6 separate regions of the Homo sapiens genome follow, and all the other regions are reported to be linked to region 1. The links are microRNA targets in miRTarBase. Many come from high-throughput screens and were not tested one by one. Region 1 holds a microRNA gene; each other region holds the end of a gene's coding sequence. Distances are between the middles of the regions.
The links. The annotated mature microRNA hsa-miR-6727-3p reads UCCUGCCACCUCCUCCGCAG and lies in region 1 at 1,403-1,422, shown strand. An mRNA with a match to its seed (bases 2 to 7 or 8) in the 3' UTR can be bound and repressed. Matches are read on the target gene's strand: a 7mer-m8 pairs with bases 2 to 8, a 7mer-A1 pairs with bases 2 to 7 and ends in A, and an 8mer does both.

Region 2: miRTarBase lists PLEKHO1 as a target of hsa-miR-6727-3p. The part of its 3' UTR that is shown has no 7-base or 8-base seed match.
Region 3: miRTarBase lists ZNF747 as a target of hsa-miR-6727-3p. The part of its 3' UTR that is shown has no 7-base or 8-base seed match.
Region 4: the mRNA of CCDC86 is a reported target of hsa-miR-6727-3p. Seed matches in the 3' UTR shown: 7mer-m8 at 2,244-2,250.
Region 5: miRTarBase lists RERE as a target of hsa-miR-6727-3p. Seed matches in the 3' UTR shown: 7mer-m8 at 666-672.
Region 6: the mRNA of ADD1 is a reported target of hsa-miR-6727-3p. Seed matches in the 3' UTR shown: 7mer-A1 at 2,238-2,244.

The regions. Positions count from the first base shown.
Region 1 is chr1:1,310,806-1,313,923 of GRCh38, reverse strand. It overlaps MIR6727 (microRNA 6727), which reads left to right and starts at 1,358; the gene lies at 1,358-1,422. PUSL1 (pseudouridine synthase like 1) reads right to left here. Exons shown (of 8, transcript NM_153339.3): 7 at 2,853-3,015; 8 at 2,247-2,594. The coding sequence ends at 2,545. INTS11 (integrator complex subunit 11) reads left to right here. Exons shown (of 17, transcript NM_017871.6): 9 at 3-192; 10 at 332-415; 11 at 800-889; 12 at 975-1,137; 13 at 1,224-1,331; 14 at 1,423-1,484; 15 at 1,556-1,698; 16 at 1,777-1,906; 17 at 2,000-2,324. The coding sequence ends at 2,065.
Region 2 is chr1:150,159,186-150,162,303 of GRCh38, forward strand. PLEKHO1 (pleckstrin homology domain containing O1) reads left to right here. Exons shown (of 6, transcript NM_016274.6): 6 at 1-880. The coding sequence ends at 338. It overlaps LINC02988 (long intergenic non-protein coding RNA 2988), which reads left to right and starts at 1,543. Exons shown (of 4, transcript NR_135098.1): 1 at 1,543-1,625. RefSeq lists enhancers at 1-172, 1,303-1,612 and silencers at 473-522, 2,223-2,292, 2,881-2,950.
Region 3 is chr16:30,529,868-30,532,985 of GRCh38, forward strand. ZNF747 (zinc finger protein 747) reads right to left here. Exons shown (of 3, transcript NM_001305018.2): 3 at 500-3,118. The coding sequence ends at 2,632. It also overlaps a transcript of ZNF768 not described here. Among named protein-coding and RNA genes, the nearest start is that of ZNF747, 3.4 kb to the right of the region's middle.
Region 4 is chr11:60,849,894-60,852,893 of GRCh38, reverse strand. CCDC86 (coiled-coil domain containing 86) reads right to left here. Exons shown (of 4, transcript NM_024098.4): 3 at 2,880-2,954; 4 at 1,813-2,688. The coding sequence ends at 2,569. PTGDR2 (prostaglandin D2 receptor 2) reads left to right here. Exons shown (of 2, transcript NM_004778.3): 2 at 1-1,961. The coding sequence ends at 359. It overlaps CCDC86-AS1 (CCDC86 antisense RNA 1), which reads left to right and starts at 1,813. Exons shown (of 2, transcript NR_182293.1): 1 at 1,813-2,128.
Region 5 is chr1:8,352,413-8,355,530 of GRCh38, forward strand. RERE (arginine-glutamic acid dipeptide repeats) reads right to left here. Exons shown (of 23, transcript NM_001042681.2): 22 at 3,007-3,118; 23 at 1-2,708. The coding sequence ends at 2,675. Among named protein-coding and RNA genes, the nearest start is that of SLC45A1, 36 kb to the left of the region's middle.
Region 6 is chr4:2,928,200-2,931,317 of GRCh38, reverse strand. ADD1 (adducin 1) reads right to left here. Exons shown (of 16, transcript NM_001354761.2): 16 at 1,256-3,118. The coding sequence ends at 2,795. SLC75A1 (solute carrier family 75 member 1) reads left to right here. Exons shown (of 13, transcript NM_001146069.2): 11 at 44-91; 12 at 168-257; 13 at 365-751. The coding sequence ends at 480. Among named protein-coding and RNA genes, the nearest start is that of SLC75A1, 5.1 kb to the left of the region's middle.

The DNA.
Region 1 (3,118 bases):
AGGGAGCGCATGAACCTGAAGGTGCCCATCTACTTCTCCACGGGGCTGACCGAGAAGGCCAACCACTACTACAAGCTGTTCATCCCCTGGACCAACCAGAAGATCCGCAAGACTTTCGTGCAGAGGAACATGTTTGAGTTCAAGCACATCAAGGCCTTCGACCGGGCTTTTGCTGACAACCCAGGACCGATGGTGAGGCCCGCGGCAGGGCCGGCCAGCACATCCACACCCGTCGGTCTCCTGTCTTCCGCAGGTGTCTGGGCTTGGGCCTGCAGTGGGGGTGGGGGCATCTGCTGCCCTGACCCCCCACCTGGCCCTGTGTGTCCTGTAGGTTGTGTTTGCCACGCCAGGAATGCTGCACGCTGGGCAGTCCCTGCAGATCTTCCGGAAATGGGCCGGAAACGAAAAGAACATGGTGAGGGCATGGTGAGGTGTGGGAATCTGGAAGCTGGAGGCCGACGGGTTGTCCTTCCACCCATGCTGTCTCTGAGCTCTCACTGGCTTGGCCTCGTGCTGGCCAAGGGACGTGGCTGCTGCTGCTGGGGAACGGGGGCGATGTCCGCCTGGAGCTGCTCAGTCTCTGTGACACAGCTTGTCCACCTCGGGCAGAACAGCCCCAGCCCAGCCCTGGACAGTCTTGTGCCAAAACCTGAGCCCTTTGGAGTCTGCAGCTAGGCTTGGTCGGGCGCCGCTGGCAGGTGGAAACAGCTTCCAGGGGTTCAGGCGGGGGCATCCCGGGCAAGGCCTTGAGGTGCCAAGGCTGGAGTTCCCTGGCTGTGAGCTCTGTGCCTGCCCCCAGGTCATCATGCCCGGCTACTGCGTGCAGGGCACCGTCGGCCACAAGATCCTCAGCGGGCAGCGGAAGCTCGAGATGGAGGGGCGGCAGGTGGTGAGTCTCGACCCCGCACTGGGCTGGCAGGGCCGAGGGGCACCTCCTGGTGGTAACCACTGTCCACGCCCCGTGGCCTCTGTAGCTGGAGGTCAAGATGCAGGTGGAGTACATGTCATTCAGCGCACACGCGGACGCCAAGGGCATCATGCAGCTGGTGGGCCAGGCAGAGCCGGAGAGCGTGCTGCTGGTGCATGGCGAGGCCAAGAAGATGGAGTTCCTGAAGCAGAAGATCGAGCAGGAGCTCCGTAGGCAGCCGGGCGGGCGGCGTGGGGCCCACCTCGGGTCAGCACGGGCAGCCTGGGCTGAGGCTCTCTCTTCCCCCGGGGTCCAGGGGTCAACTGCTACATGCCGGCCAATGGCGAGACGGTGACGCTGCCCACAAGCCCCAGCATCCCCGTAGGCATCTCGCTGGGGCTGCTGAAGCGGGAGATGGCGCAGGGTATGCGGGCTGGGCAGGGCAGGGCAGGGTGCTCGGGGCAGGCGGCTGGGAGCGGCCCTCACATTGATGGCTCCTGCCACCTCCTCCGCAGGGCTGCTCCCTGAGGCCAAGAAGCCTCGGCTCCTGCACGGCACCCTGATCATGAAGGACAGCGTGAGTGCCAGGACGGTCTCTGGAGGGGGGAGGGCCGCTGCTGCGCTCACTGACCTGTCCCTGCCCCACAGAACTTCCGGCTGGTGTCCTCAGAGCAAGCCCTCAAAGAGCTGGGTCTGGCTGAGCACCAGCTGCGCTTCACCTGCCGCGTGCACCTGCATGACACACGCAAGGAGCAGGAGACGGCATTGCGCGTCTACAGCCACCTCAAGAGGTGGGCGCCCGGCCCCGCCCCCCCCCCACTCCCTTGGGCCCTGGAGGCCAGGCAGGGTCTCACCGAGCCTCCCCACAGCGTCCTGAAGGACCACTGTGTGCAGCACCTCCCAGACGGCTCTGTGACTGTGGAGTCCGTCCTCCTCCAGGCCGCCGCCCCTTCTGAGGACCCAGGCACCAAGGTGCTGCTGGTCTCCTGGACCTACCAGGTAAGGGGTGACCCCCACCCCACCGCGGTCAACACAGGTATCAACATTCCTCCCTGTCCTGCACCACCCACAATGCTTTTGCCTCTGCCCTAGGACGAGGAGCTGGGGAGCTTCCTCACATCTCTGCTGAAGAAGGGCCTCCCCCAGGCCCCCAGCTGAGGCCGGCAACTCACCCAGCCGCCACCTCTGCCCTCTCCCAGCTGGACAGACCCTGGGCCTGCACTTCAGGACTGTGGGTGCCCTGGGTGAACAGACCCTGCAGGTCCCATCCCTGGGGACAGAGGCCTTGTGTCACCTGCCTGCCCAGGCAGCTGTTTGCAGCTGAAGAAACAAACTGGTCTCCAGGCTGTCTTGCCTTTATTCCTGGTTAGGGCAGGTGGTCCTAGACAGCAGTTTCCAGTAAAAGCTGAACAAAAGACTACTTGGTACTCTCTTCTTGGTGTACATGGCTGTGTCCTGCACTGTGCCCCATCCCGCCTGGGACAGAGACGGGCATCCAGGGTGCTGGGACCCGGGCAGGGAGGCTACTGTGGAGACCAGGCAGCAGTGCTGTGGGCCCCAAGCAGCTGTGACTGCCCTGGCTTGACCAGCACAGGGTTGGGCCTGGTGTGGCCTAACTTTGGCTTGAGTGTCCAGGGTCATCCGTGGCTCCCGAACTGTGGCCCCTGCAGGGTGCAGGAGGCAGCACCTGTGGACGGACCAGACCCTGCGTCAGCCTGGGGCAAGACCGGCCCAGCACCCTCCCCACCGCTGAGACCACTCCCATGACCAGGGAGTGGGCCAGCCCAGGACGGGCTACGGGCTGGCCTGAGGGACTGCAGCCCTGGGCGGGGGGCTGCTTCACCCCCAGTTGCTGCCGTCAGTGGCCCCTGGCCCCCCACCCCATGCCTCGGCCACAGTAGTCACTGGGCACATGACAGGAGCTTCTCGTGCCTGTTTTTCTTACCGAGGTTCCCGTACAGCACTGACTTGAGGAATAAGCCGTGGGCTGGGGCTACACGTGTCTGGTGCTTGCCCAGGGGATCTTGGCTCTCCAGAATCGTCTTCACCTGGGCAGGTGCCAAAGCCCCCAGCCCCACGGCCACCAGCACAGCCGTCATCCTCCGTACCTGTGACCCAGAGCCACCTGTGACCCAGAGCCGCCCGTGACCCACCAGCACAGCCGTCATCCTCCGTACCTGTGACCCAGAGCCGCCCGTGACCCACCAGCAC
Region 2 (3,118 bases), 150 Mb from region 1:
CCCTCCCCAACCCGGGGCAGCTGTCCCGGATCCAGGACCTGGTAGCAAGGAAACTGGAGGAGACTCAGGAGCTTCTGGCAGAGGTTCAGGGACTGGGAGATGGGAAGCGAAAGGCCAAGGACCCCCCTCGGTCTCCGCCGGATTCTGAGTCAGAGCAGCTGCTGCTGGAGACGGAACGGCTGCTGGGAGAGGCATCATCGAATTGGAGCCAGGCAAAGAGGGTGCTGCAGGAGGTCAGGGAGCTGAGAGACCTGTACAGACAGATGGACCTGCAGACCCCGGACTCCCACCTCAGACAGACCACCCCGCACAGTCAGTACCGGAAGAGCCTGATGTGAGGGCAGGGTGGGGTCTGGAACTTGTCGGGTTGGACAGACTCTTATCTCCGTGTTGCTGGATAAAGCTTTTTTATTTACCTCAATCAAAAAAAGAAAACAAAAATGAACTCATTGCTCTTGCTGATGCCTGACCCCACTACAACCCTTATTGCCCCACCTACTTTCCATATGCCCCTCGTATGCCCCTCAGGTTTGAGGAAGTGACCCCGCAGCAGTAGCAGGAAGTTTTTACCCAGCCAGAGAGAGAGAAGGCACGGTAAAGACACAGTCTGACCACTCCACACACCGCCCGCCCCCAAGACGGCACAGGGAGTCCACTGCTGCTCCCAAGGATACAGTGGGCTTCTAAGCTTAGAGCGGGAGGGGGATGAGGATGTTTTCTGTTATGTCCCACCCCAGGCCTTCAGTTTGAGGGTGAAGTTTCAGCTGCCCAACTCTAGTTGTAGGGATGTGGAGGCCAGTGTCACCTGTCCGTGCACATGGAAGTGAAATTTATCCCAGCCCTGAGGAGGATTTGTGGAATTAAAATCTCCCCAGCCAGACACTGGCTTCTCATTCCTAGCAGTCTCTCATTGAGATCGAGCTGCCTGGATTTTCTTACATGAGGTGTTTCTTCCCTTCATCTTCCACACCCTTCCCAACCTTGACTCAAAGATCCACCCTTGTCGGGCGCAGTGGCTCACGCCTGTAATCCCAGCACTTTGGGAGGCCAAGGCGGGTGGATCACCTGAGGTCAGAAGTTTGAGACCAGCCTGACCGACATGATGAAACCCAGTCTCTACCGAAAATACAAAAAATTAGCCAGGCATGGTGGTGGGCGCCTGTAATCCCAGCTATGCGGGAGGCTGAGGCAGGAGAATCACTTGAACCTGGGAGGCAGAGGTTGCAGCAAGCCAAGATTGTGCCATTGCACTCCAGCCTGGGCAACAAGAGCGAAACTCCGTCTCAAAAAAAAAAAAAAAATCCAACCTTGAGTGGATGAGACTAGTTTCATTATTTGATTCAGGGCCCTAGCACAGGGGAACTAGAGACAGACCCCACAGAAGAACTGAACTAAGAATGAAACTGGTGTGTGATGCAAGCTGGGTAGGATGAAGGGGAAAACCAAACATCTGTCCAAGTTCCTCTTTCAGCCATGCTGAGGTTTCCTGTAGCCTCCCCCTCTCCTTCCTCAAACCTCTTCCATCACTAAGCAAGTCCCCACTTTAGAAAAGCATCTGGATGCCCACGCCACCACCCTCCCAGCCACCTCTGAAGTTGCCAGGCTTCCCAACATTCTTGTCTGTGGTAGGTCCCACACAACTCACTGTTCACTCTTTCCTTGGAAGTGTGTGAGATGAGGTTTAGTAACGGTGAGGTCCCCAGAAGAGCTATGAAGGGAATAATTTGATTTTGGGAAAGAAGGGGACAGAGTCTCATGAATCAAGTAAATGAGGGGTTAAAAGCCACATTGAAGTGTGCCTTGCTAGCTGCTTGATCCTCCAAGAGCAGCGGGGCTTCACTAGAGGTAAGGGGAGGAGGGGGAGGAAACGGGGCCAAGTTACATGTAGACCTGGCCATGACGCTGCCCCGATGTTATAGGAAGATGGGATAGGAGGAAGCGGGGGAAAAACCTGTGGGAGAAACAGATTCTTCAGTCCGCATTCTTCTGCTCTAACGTCACTCCTACAACCCATGTAAGCAAAATGGGGGCCTCTGTCCCCTTTCCAGAAATCATCTCTTTCCTTCACAGCTCTTCTCTGGACCTTATCACTGCTGTTAAACCATCCCTAGGGCAGAGGAATTCTTGCTCTCTCTAGTCCCTTGCCACTCTGTCATGGAGATTGTCCCCAGCTCTAGACTGTAGTTACCTAGCCTCTTCCTTGAAGAATGTGTATCCCAGTTGAGTGAGGGAAAGTGTGCAAGAGTGCCACCTTCATGTCATTCTATGGTCTCTTGGGGTATGAGGTGAGAACCCAGGCTTCCAGACTTCCTGTCCTTCAAATAGCTGCACTCTCCACAGCCCTAAGCATGGTCAGCAGAGCCATCCATTGTCACAAGTATTGAAGTCTAAGGTAGAATTATGCTTTCTTTTTACAAGTCTCTATCTTTGTATTTTACCAGCATTTTTCCTTTTCTTTTTTTCTTCCTTGTTGCTCCCACATAATGAAAAAAGACAAAAGCACAAATGACATGTGTATCCCAACATGTCAATTATCTGTGGCTCCCAGGGGAGCCAGAAGATGGAGGGAGACACTAGAGAGGAGAATGACAGGTGAAAGAAGCAGAAAAGAAAGATCGGGGACCTCACAACAGTAAGAGAGGAGCTGGGCACTGTGCTCCTGGGCTTCAGGCTCTAAAACCAACAGCTTCCAGTTCTCCAGCAGTTACTGGAACATCCAGGCCCTAGGGTGGTGAAATGAGCCCAGCTTTGAAACCAGATGGATCTGGATTCAAATTCTAACTCTGTTACTTCTTGATTATGAGGCTCTGGGCAAGGCACATGCTTTCCGAGTATCAGTTTTTTTCATCTGCAAGCTGCAGAGCTATTGGATGGGTGAGGACAATATGGAAAATGCCTGTCAGTCAGAAAGTGACCACTGCAGCTACTGTTACTGGTTTGACTCTGGGCAGTGAGCCGCTAGCTCAGTTGGAAGGAGCACTGTGTGAATGAGGCCACCGGGGTGGGGTCACTGTCACTTAGCTAGATCCAGGCCACAGGCTGTGCTGGACCTCTCTCTTCAGAGGAGAGAGCCAGAAGGGATGAAAGCATGGTCCCTGGTCTTCAAGAACTTTAGAGC
Region 3 (3,118 bases), not on the chromosome of region 1:
GGCTGGAGTGCAGTGGTGCTATCTCTGCTCAGTGCAACCTCTGCCTCCTGAGTTCAAGCGATTCTCCTGCCTCACCCTCCTGAGTAGCTGGGACTATAGGCACGTGCCACCATGTCAGGCTAATTTTTTTAAAATGTATCCTTAGTAGAGACGGGGTTTCACCATGTTAGCCAGGATGGTCTCGGTCTCCTGACCTTGCGATCCGCCCGCCTCAGCCTCCCAAAATGCTGGGATTACAGGTGTGAGCCACCACGCCCGGCCGAGAATAGCTACATTTTTAAAAGATACTTAGCCTGGCCCTACCTCTAGGTGGAAATATCTGTGCCACCAACTGAGGAGCTGAGAATGGGGTGGGGCTAAGGCTTAAGGGTTTCACGACACTAAAAAAAATTGACGAAATGCTGGAAGGTTGGGTCATGAGGGCAGGAAGCAGAGGAGTTGGAGCCTGGTTTCTGGGCCATAAGTAAACTTTACAAACTTCAAAGCTCTCAGAGACCTCTAGGTAATAATCACGGCATCTTTAATTGGCAAACTCAGGGCCAAGATCTATCTGGCTGTCAGTCTGGGCTGAGAACTGGTGTTGCAAGCTGGGCTTTCCCCAGGCTGTGTTGAGGGTTAGGGGAGGGGACTGAGATGTACACTGGAAATTAAAACCTGGTACAAAGGTATCTCCTACTGCCAAGGTTCCTCTTCTCACCCCATGTGCCCCTGTGATAAAGTGACACACGAGTCAACCCGCCCCAGAAAAGCTGAGGGAGAGAGAGACCACGGTGGGATTGGATTGGAGATGAGGTTCGAATAAAGTCAGTTCATTACTTGACACCCGAACAGTGTCTTTTCTCCAAAACTTCTACCTCCTTTCAGGCTGATAAATCTGGTTCCTTCCTCCCTGGGTAGGCCAGACACAGGGCTGAGCTGGGTGACAGGTGAGGGCGCACAGGCCAGCAGAGGTCACAGGCCCTTGCTCTCCTTGGGCAGGTGTTGTCCTGACCAGAGGCAGGGCAGGGGCTGCCCGTGGCTGGACTCTGCCCACAAAGGAATTAGTGGTAGCTGGATAATGGAGTCGTGAAGTGCTGGAGGGATTCCGTGTAGAACTTGGGGATACAGATGGGTACGGTTGCCACTGGCTACAAATCTAACACCAGGTGTTCCTGGCCTAGCCCCCTCTGCCCATGATGGCACATACTTAAAGACAGCAAAGATGGTGCGTACCTAAAGACAGGAAAGATGCAAGGACTGTTTTGACACAGACATGGGTTCAAGAAATACTTCCCTTTCTTCTTTGCTGTACTTTAAGATAAACACCAAAAACACTAAAAGCAAGCCATGATGAATGGCTACTCATGCTTGGTCAGGAGCTGATGGGATGAGTGGCCGGACCACAGTAAGTTGGGAGTTCTGGCTCCGGCCCAACTCCCAACAACTGCGACTTTCTGAGAGCCTAGGTGAACTTGCGAAATCTTTGGATTTTTCAAGAGATGCCAGAAACCTGGATTTTGGTGCAAAATATCCCTTTAGATCTTCATCACTAATTCTTATCACTTAAAAACACTGCCTGGGCCCAAATCAATACAGCAACTGCAGGCGAGATCCAATACAGGGTCACTGGTTTTTTAGGTTGTGCAGCAAAAAGACAATGAAGGCCAGTGCAGTGGCTCCCCTGTAATCCCAGCACTTTGGGAGGCCAAGGTGGGCGAATTGCTTGAACCGAGGAGTTTGAGACCAGCCTGATCAACATAGTGGGAACCCCATCTCTGCAAAAAAATTTAAAAATTAGCCAGGCATAGTGTTGCCCACCTGTAGTCACAGCCATCTGAGAGGCTGGGGCAGGAGGATTCCTTGAGCCCAGCAGGTCTAGGCTGCAGTGAGCCCAGTTCACACCACTGCATTCCAGCCTGGGTGAGGAGCAAGATGCTGTCTTAATAAGTAAATAAATAAACAAAAAAAACAGACAATGGGTATTGTCTTGTGGGAAGGTCAAAGAATAAAAAAGAAAAGGCCAGGTGAGGTGGCTCACGCCTGTAATCCCAGCACTTTGGGAGGCAGAGGTGGGTGGATCACCTGAGGGCAGGAGTTCGAGACCAGCCTAGCCAACATGGTGAAACCCCATCTCTACTAAAAATACAAAAAGTTAGCCGGGCATAGTGGCAGGTGCCTGTAATTCCAGCTACTTGGGTGGCTGAGGCAGGAGAATCGCTTGACTCCAGGAGGTGGAAGTTGCAGTGAGTCGAGATCGCACCATTGCACTCCAGCCTGGGCAACAAGAGCAAAACTCCGTCTCAAAAAATTAAAAAAGTAAAAAGAAAAAGACAACAGAGAAAACAAGGTTCTTCTCTACCTCAATCCTCTTAGCATCTCTGGGAGGAGAAACAGCTTTTGCTTCCCTGTATGGAGGTCTGGGGGGTTCTCACCTCAGCCCTGCCTCAGCAAAGGGGGCCTTGGAGAGCCCAGGGCAGCGGGGAGCAAGGTGCTGGCAGAAGAGGCTGCTGAGAGCCCAAGATCAGACTGTCCGCACCCCAGGCCAGCTCTTGCGGTGGATTCTGGGACCTCCCTGCAGGCCGCTGCAGAGGTTCGGGCCCCTGAGCCCATCTCGGGCCGCCCACAATGTCTAGATGGTCACTTTTTAGGCCGTCACCCACATTCCTGGAATATCTCTGGATACAGCTGGAAGCCCACAGGCGGGTCCAGGTCCCCGCGGACAGGAGTCAGGGTCACAGACAGCCCCCCAGGGCGCCGGCCCCTACGCCCCTCGCCCCCGGGCCGATGGACCCATTGGTGCTTGGCCATGCCGGTCTTCAGGCCGAAGCAGCGGCCACACTGCGGGCAGCGGTAGGGCTTCTCGCCAGTGTGAACGCGCAGGTGAGAAGTCAGCGCCGTGCGGCGCATGAAGGCCCGACCACACTCGGGACAGCGGTGGGGCCGCTCCCCACGATGGATGGCCCGGTGTTTGCTCAGGGAGGAAGCGTGGCCGAAGCCCTTGCCGCAGTCTGCGCAGTGGAAGGGCTTCTCGCCCCTGTGGCTGTAAATGTGCTCCACCAGTGTGGAGCGCCAGGCGAAGCTCTTCCCGCACACGTAGCAGCCGTGACGCTGGTCAGCTCGGGGGACAGGGGGGTGGGCA
Region 4 (3,000 bases), not on the chromosome of region 1:
GGCTGCGGCCGCTCGTGTGGCGCGGGCTGCCCTTCGTCACCAGCCTGGCCTTCTTCAACAGCGTGGCCAACCCGGTGCTCTACGTGCTCACCTGCCCCGACATGCTGCGCAAGCTGCGGCGCTCGCTGCGCACGGTGCTGGAGAGCGTGCTGGTGGACGACAGCGAGCTGGGTGGCGCGGGAAGCAGCCGCCGCCGCCGCACCTCCTCCACCGCCCGCTCGGCCTCCCCTTTAGCTCTCTGCAGCCGCCCGGAGGAACCGCGGGGCCCCGCGCGTCTCCTCGGCTGGCTGCTGGGCAGCTGCGCAGCGTCCCCGCAGACGGGCCCCCTGAACCGGGCGCTGAGCAGCACCTCGAGTTAGAACCCGGCCCACGTAGGGCGGCACTCACACGCGAAAGTATCACCAGGGTGCCGCGGTTCAATTCGATATCCGGACTCCTGCCGCAGTGATCAAAGTCCGAGGGGCGGGACCCAGGCACCTGCATTTTAAAGCGCCCCGGGAGACTCTGAATCTTTTTCAGAAACAGTGAGTTAAAGCAGTGCTTCTCAAACCTTGATGTGCCTGTGAATCACCTAGGGGTCTTGTTAAGTGCAGTCTGATCCAGGAGGCCGGGGCCGGGTACTGAGAGTCTGCACTTAACAAGCTCCCAGGCCGAGAAGCCAGTGCGGCAGGTTCACAGGCGAGGCCTGGAGTAACACAAAGTGAAACTCATAATAGACTTCCCACTCTAGGGCAGTGGAGTCGGAAGGGCACACGGGGTGCGTCTCCCCGGAGTTCAGTTTTACCAGATGATGGGGGAGGGGGGAAGGAGTTTTATGTTAAACCATCCATGTATTTTTGGAGAAGAGAGAGGAAAGGTTTGAGAAGCACTGTTCCAGCCTGCCCTCTTCATTTAGCCAATGCTTACTGCGCTAGACGCTTCATCCCACAATCTTAAGGGGCAGCTTCTATTAGCCAGTCTTTACAGCTGAGCACATTCTGGCTCAGGGAGGTTAAGTGACTTGCCCAGTTTCAGGGCTAACGACCACAGGGTCTGCACTCTAACCCTAGGCATCACATGCTCAATGACTCTCTGGTGAGCGAGGACATTCTCTGACCTACTCGAGGGACTTAAGATGCTACCTTGTGACCCAGCACTGCCCAAAGTGCTTCCAAGGCAGAAGCAGCAGGGGATGGCGTGGTCAAGCACTCGGGAAACCTGGGGCTAATCAAATCCAATGGGGGAAATGACTAAAAGTCTTCGGTCGTTAGAAGTTGAATGGGCACAGCAACTCTAAGACTACAGCACACGTCATTTCTTAGCTAAGCGGACCAGCCTCCCTGTCGGCCTGGTGTTCTGTGGGATCCCTCTGGGCACTGGTAATCCCAAGATCTGTGCAGCCCCGCCTCCAGGCCACATGGGGCTGGGCAGCTACCATTTCCCTTTTGCGGATGGGAGGGGTAACTTGCACCTCTGACCTATCACTTCCACTGCACCCCGTCTCATTCCTCCACCTGCCGTGGACTTGGGGTCAGAGACTGCTGTGTTTGAGCTCTGCAGCCCAGGGACCGAAAAGTTGGTGTCAATGAATTTTGCTTGGTGGATGAAATGTCAGTGGAAGAAGCAGATGAGAAACTCTTGAGATCTTGGTCCTGTGTTTTTTCTGCCACCAAAGGCCAGGGTCACTGAAGGCCTGGCCCACAGCAGGTGCTGAGCAAAGGGAACAGTGAGGTGCCCAGCTAGCTGCAGAGCCACCCTGTGTTGACACCTCGCCCCTGCTCCCTCCCATCCCTTCCCCCTTTACTCATAGCACTTCCCCCATTGGACACGTGGTGCATTTTGCTTGTTTATTATGTTTTCTCTCCATCAGAATGAAAGCTCCTCGAGGGCAGGGACTTTGGTCTATTGTCTGTATTTGCCGGTGCCTAGGATTGTGCCTGTATGCAACAGGCACTCAATAAATATTTTTGCTGTAGACTGGACAGGCATGAGTTAGATTCTCTGGGGCTTCTGCAGAGACTGGTTTGGGAAAGTGGGTGCTAGGGAAAAGCTCTGCTCCCTGCAACCTCCCCATTTTAATCTTTCAGTATTGAAAAGTGGAGAGGAACCGGATTCAGTCTGCTGGGGACAGAGGCAGTGGGGTGTGGAGGTGCTCAGAGCAGCCTTTGGGAAGGTGTGGGGGAAGCTGGATTCCCAACTGTCAGCCTCCAGGCCTGGGATGGACCTAGGATGCTGAGAAAGGGCATACACTGCTGAGGGAGTCACCTGCCAGTCACCAGCTCACTGAGGAACCAGAAGAATGTACAGTTCTTGGTTTGAAGGCACTTGGAGAAGGAGAGGAAGGAGGGATGGGAGCTGAATCTCTTCCCGCCCCCATCTCTGCCAGGTCCCAGGCCCCCTCTGGGCTTCTGTCCCACACAGACCTGCCTGGAAGCCTTCAAAGGCCGAGGAGCCCCGGTCGGGGTGGGGGTCCCTGTTCTGGAGCCATGGGTTTGGAGTGCCAGCTCCAGCAGAGGCATCTGAGCAGCGGCCTGAGGTGCTGTGTCTGACATGGTTGTTGGCCATGGAAGGCCTCGGGCCGTCCTGAGCTCAGATCTTGGCTGCCGGCTGCTGGGGCGGCTGCTTCTGCAGCAGGGCCAGGGTGTCCCGCTTCTCAATGGAGCGCAGCTGCTTCTTCTTTGCCCGCTTGAGCTTGGCGGGGTTTCGGATCTGGGGGTGGTATGAGGGGAGGACATTAGTGCAGCTGCAGCCTCGGTCCAAATTCCCAGGGGAGAGGAAGGCCGCCCCACAGGGGCCTGAGATCGTAGCATGAGAGTGGGGGTACATGAGGCAGGGGTCGAGGCCCTGGTTTGCACCCCCAAGTGGGGCAGAAGGGCAGAGGGGGAAAACGAGACACTCACCACTTGGACGACCTCTGCCTTCCGCTCATTCTCCAGGCGGCGTTTCAGGTTCTCAGCCCGGCGCTGTTTCTTCTCCTGGAACATGTGGGAGAAGGGGATTTGAGTCGGGGAGCAGAGGCAG
Region 5 (3,118 bases), 7.0 Mb from region 1:
AGCTTGGTTTTATTTATGTCCACAAATATTTCAAAAAAATTACAAAATACTCAAATGGAGAGAACACAGAAGTCACGATTTCTGGGTGTCTACTGTTTACACTGTGTTATCTCATGGCAAACTACTCATATATACATTTAGCTTCAAGATATATAGAAACGTAGCAAATCCGAGTGTGCACGCTGCCTCTGCCGCAGTGGAGTGAAGCTCAACCTCGAGGACACCGAACAAGATACGGACACACACAGAGGAGCCAAACCAAACCCCGAACAAAGGGAGGAAAATCCGAAGGAAACCGAGTGGTTGGGCTTCAAAGACACCATGAAGGTCAGGGCCTCCTAAACAAACTGTAGTTTATCTGGTGAGGGTTTCGGGTCGAGGGTTTTTTAGATGGAAGAATCTCAGCGCTTCGCCTTGGGATATGGGGAGAAAAGCAAAGCTAACAAGAATGCCTTCGGACGGCTTTCAAGCACAGACCTCAGAGGACTCGACTCTTCTTTGGAAAAATGGATGCCAAAGGAGGAGATAAAGAAGGTTTAACTGAATGGTAGATGTTGTGTTCTACCAAAAAGAAAGAAAAACCAGAAGCCGAGAAGGTGGGGGCCTGGATGCAGGAGTCTGGGAGCCCAGCAGGAAGAGGCCTCGCTCAGAGCCACGGGAACAAGCCTGCCATGAGGGCCTGTCCCCACCCCAGAAGGAAACGAATGCCTTCAAGCCAATGTGGCCTGAAGTCCCACGACAAAAGGTTCATGTCAGCTTTGCCTCCCTGTGAACAAACTAAAGTTAAGGCAGAAATGGAATGAGAGAAAAATGAAAGAAAAAAAACTAGAAACATTTTCAACAGACAAAACAAGCCTATCCCAACTGAAACCAAACACGGTTTTTAAGAGAAACTGGAAATGTCGCTATTTGACGCCAGAACCTGAATTTGAGCCAGTAGCTGCTGGTTTCTAGATCAAACTATCAGCATCTCTTCCTGCTCCCTCTGCGGCCTGGGTCCTGGATGGACTTTGTGTCCGCCGACCCAGTGTGGTCTCTGTCCTACAATTCTTGGGATGGGACCAGCACAATGGCAGAAGAGACCTCCAGTGTCTGAGAGAAAAGGATCGGAAGAGGCCACGTCCTGGCAGGAAGCAGGGCCGACAGAGGGCAGACACCCCAGAACACCCGCCCTCAGCCTGGGAGAAAGTGCGTTACGGCTGCAGCCTGGAAACGAGGGCAGGCTCTCTCCAGGACGGTTCCGCTCAGAAGGGCCTGGCCTCCTGAGAAGCAGCCCCCACACAGCATGCTTTCTGAATGCACTGTGGGTGGGACTCCAGTTCCCACTTCCAGGATGAAGAGTGGGACTCAAATGGTTTACCAGTGCAATGTGGGGTCACCATGCAGACCTGCCCCTAGGGTAAAATACAGGCTGCCCCCAACACCTGTCTTAACTCCAGGATCTCCCTTGCTCAAAAGTGGCCTCAATCTGTGGCAAGAAAGATGGGGCCGTCCTCACCACAAGATCCAAGTGACAATGCGCATGAGAAGGCAGCCTTCTAACACATCCCTTTGGCAGGCATATGTCCTGGGTCACTTGTGTGCTGAGTTATTTGTATGGAATCATTTTCTTAGATGATGAAATTTTCGGAGTATTAAAAAAGACATTCATCCAGAACAATCAAGTGTGTGTACACAGAAATCTAGAAGGAAATCTACAATGGACACAGGCCCATGCGCTTTCCATCCCGTGGAAACAGAACAGTGACACTGGAGAACAGAAAGTGAACATTCACCTCCTGCACTCCCTGTGCAAAATGGAAGAGGTCTGATGGAGCAGATGTCTGTGCTGCTGGCAGAGCACAGGCTAGGAGCAGACACAAGTGAAACGCCAGGCAGAAAACAGAGTCTGTAACATCGTCCCTGCAAACCCTGGATGCTCGCTGCTGTGACCAGGCCTCGGTCCAAGCCTCTGTCCATGTGGAACGCCCCTTTGCTCCCTTTAATTAAAGGGATAATTATATATAACTTTTTATTAAAAAATCAACTCTGTATTCTGTCAATAGTTGGTAGGAATTCACAATTAGTGACATGGCTGGAAAAAATAGATCACAATAGTAGTTTATGGAAGAAAAAAAGGCTGTTCTAAAATTATTTATTTACAGACGTAAAAAGCCATGCTGCAGAACTTTCTCCAATTATGAAGATTTCCTACAATGTATTAAAATAAAAGATTTTTTTTTTTAAAAATTATAGCTCTTGGATTCCAAATTCCTATGCCCCCGATCTGCAAGCCTCGTGGGCTCTGGAGCACTCGTGGCGGAGTGTGTCAGTGTGTCTGCACGCACAGTGAAGGGTGTGAACTGGATTCTAGCACCTACTGAGAAATCAAGGAAAAGAAAACTAAAGCCAAACCCCAAGATTGCAGGGAAGCTTTCTGGATGTTCAGTCCAGTCCAGGACTCACTAAGTTTCTGGGGGACTGTCATGCAGGGAGATCCAAACCAGTCTCAGGAAATCCTCTCGACAAACGAACACTACTATGTGGATACATTTTTAGTTGTGGGTTTTTAAATATATAAAGAAATCTTTAGAAGATATTCTTTTTGCTTTTGCAGCTCCTATTTTATGTAAAAAGTCCTGTTTCTCCCCCCAAGAACTGGGGTTTCCACAGCCAGCGTTAACAAATAAATAACTTATAACTGCTTGTCACCTTCTTTCTTCAGTCGACTGGAAAGACAAAACAGGAAAGCGTATTTAGTCTCAGGCCTAGGCAGGCAGTCACGCAGGCTGGAGGCAACCCCAAAGACAACAGCCAGGCAATCCAACCCCAAGCCCGCAGCCTCCTGTGTAGCTGACCTACCCTCCCAACACCTCCCTTCCTCTGTTTCTCCCATCACCATGGTTCCACAATGTCCCCTCCAGGGCCCAGCAGGCAGAGGGGGAGGAGCCTGGCCCTGGGCACACGGGGAGGTTGGGAGCCTGGGCTCAGATAACCCCTCCACTCCCTCCCAGCACCCCACCTCACCTGTAATAATCTTCCTGACTTGGTAGGTGGCCACCATGCATGTGGGGGTGTCCATGCAGCCACTGCTGCTCCATGGCCAGTCTCTGCAGCTCGGCCGACTGGGCATGCATGG
Region 6 (3,118 bases), not on the chromosome of region 1:
CCTCCCCTGGGCTGACGGGCACCTCCTCGATGTCTCCCACCAGCCGCCGCCGTTGTGGTGCCCTGCCTGTCCTCCGTGGTCGCTGGCTATGGTGAGCCCCCTTCCCTCGGCCGAAGCCACCTGAGCGGGAGAAGGGCAGTGGTGCCTGACTGTGCCTCTTCCCACAGGCTCACCAGGGCAGAAGGGCACGGTCATGGGTACACTGCGCAGCCTAGGTGCTCTGGCCAGGGCCGCGGGGCCCCTGGTGGCCGCTTCAGGTGAGGGCGCGGGATGGTGCTGGGGCAGGCTGGGGGCCAAGCACCTGCCCTCGCCTCCCAAGTGCCAGCCCCCTCGGGGACTGGGTGACGCCACCGTCTCTCCGCAGTGTACTGGCTGGCCGGGGCCCAGGCCTGCTTCACCACGTGGTCCGGGCTCTTTTTGCTCCCCTTCTTCCTCCTGCAGAAGCTGAGTTACCCGGCACAGACGCTCAAGGCTGAGTAGCTGAGCCACTGTGCCCAGGCTGTGGGCACCAGGCAGAGTGGGAGCCTAGGTCAGGCCCCTGCCCACTGCCTGACCCCCACCCCCCGCCAGTCCAGGGAGACCCTGTGGGTGGGGGCCGGCCCCTAAGCAGGAAGCTCAGGCAGCTCCTCCAGACTTACTTACTCCTTCAGTGACTCCGAGCTGCAGCACTCCAAGGCTGTCAGGGCTTCTGTTTGTTTTTTAAACTATGCACCAGGTTTCTGATGATGAAATAAAGCACCTGTTTGTTTTATACCAAGTGCCTTTCGCCATATATAGCCGTGCTTCTACCCACACCAGGAAAGGCAGCTGGAGCTGAATGAATGGCTCCACTGACCGGAAGGGTCCAAGGCTCTTTGAGACCCTCAGTTTCCCCCTCTGCACAGTGGCAGCCTGGGGACTCACTCAGGCAGGCTCCTCCAAGGCTGGGGTCAGCCCTGGCCAGGTGGTATCTGGCAGTGTGCCCCGCACCCTGGCAGGATGTCCCCAGCACAGAGCCCTCCCCATCAAACATGAGCACACAGTGACAGTGAGACTGGGACCATGGGGACAAGGACAGGCCAGCAGTTCCCTGGACACCCTGAGTTCCCGTGGAGAGGGACACCAGGAGTGCTGGGTGGCACGTCCTGCCGCACGCGTGGCTGCAGGTGACATTTTATCAAGACATGAACATTAGGAGGTCTCTTTTCAGCACGAGACAAACATGGGAACAAAGAAATTAAAATATAAAACTGCTTCCCAGATTTAGACAAGGAACTTGCTGAAAGAATTTTATTTGTGAGTAAAACATGTTACACTGGAGAAAGGACATTCAGGACCTGTCCTCCCAAGTCGGTGTCCATATATGCAACTATATTTCATGTTGTAATACAAAGGATTAAACTACAAAAGTGAAAATTAAAAGTCATTGCATATGTGGGGTAAAGGAGGGGATAAAGGAAGAGTCCACGGTTAAGGACTTTTCATTCTGCCTTGGCAACAAAACGACACAGAAGAGAGGCAGCACGCTTGCCCGCGTAGCAGGCCCTGCGGCTCAGAGGAAGCTGGAAGCGGCGGTCAGTGCCATGCAGCAGCCTGGTTCTCGCTCGGCTGGCCAATCAGTGGGATCCGAGGTGGCTCGGCCCATCATGCCCAGGATCTGAGCCCACATCTGGCACCAGCTCTACCAAGGGCCTGTTGGGCCCACACAAGCTTGCCTGTACCTAGTCAGGCTGGTACCGGCACCTCCTGAAATGGGTCACCCTCCGGTTCCTGCTCAGCAGCTCTGAGCCCTTTTCCAGCCTCTTGGAGGGAAGTAACAACAACAGCATCTGCCGAGGAGCACACGGTTCAGGCTCCATCAATGACGGTGATGTCGAGGGGCCCCAGGGCTACCCTCCACCTCGAGTTACCTTTGATCACAACTAGGGCATCTTTCTGGCTGAGTTAAGGTGAGAACAGTCCCCTGAAGCCTCCCCCAAATAAGTGAAAAGTGCTCTACTGTGGGGTCTGGAAAGAAGAAAGCAAAAAGCAGCCTATTCACGTTCACAGTCGAAAAATGTAAGCTAAATTGTAAACCTGCTCAAAGAAAATTCTAGAAAGGCCTCTTCCCCTCCTGATATACCTTCCCTATGACAGGAATCCAGAGACCCAAGTGAAAAAGAAACTGAGCTCCTGAATCTGATTCTGGTCGAGGGATCGTCGGTCAGACATGCATAGCATCACGTTGGGTGCACACAGGCCCATCTGCCGCTGGGGTTTCCTGCCCAGCATCTGGCCCAGACCTGCCTCTTCAAGGCCGCTGGTGGGCACACGAGTGTTTTCACGGGACCAAGGCTTTGTATATAGATTTAAGTGAGATCACTGAGCAGAGAGAATGCCACATGAAGCCAGGAGTCTGAGTCCGTCACCTGAGACTTTAGGGTGGAGGGGAAGCCAAGCAGAGACAGAATGTGGTGATTTCACAACAGGAGGGACGGCAGGAAAGGTGAGGCTCAGGAGGGTGACGTGCAGCCAAAGCTGCAGAAGCCTTCAGTACCTTCCAGCCAGGACCATGACTTAGTGCCTCCCCCCTGTGGGGAGAGCATGTCTCCCCCAGAAGCTGAGGCTCTGAGAGGACAAGGGGCAGGGTGGGGTGGGGCTGCTGAGCACACACTGGGTCAGCCCGGGGCTACACGGGGCTGGTCACGTGAGGGGACCTCTAGGCGGAGGGCTTGGCTTTTTTGCATTCCATTACACAAGGACAGAGCACAGACGTGGCCGGGGACGCTGGCAGAGCCAGGGTCGCTCCGGACAGGACAGTGTTAGCGCAGGGCTTTCAGGAGTCACTCTTCTTCTTGCTCTTCTTCAGAAAGGACGGGGTACGGAACTTCTTCTTCTTTTTGGACGGGGACTTGCCTGGAGACCCATCGCTGCCAGGGTCCGCGGCGGCCCCCTCCTCGACAGCTGAGGGGGCAGCCTCTTCAGCCACCGGGGCTGGGTCTGGGGCTGGCTCGGGGCTGGCCTCAGTAGGGGCCTCAGTGGGGCTTGGGGGTCTATGGGCTTCCTCCTCCTTCTCTAACATTGGGAAGCCGAGTGCTTCTGAAGGTTCATCAGGGGACAGATCGGGGAGAGTTGGCTTAAAGGTGGCAGCATCACTGTC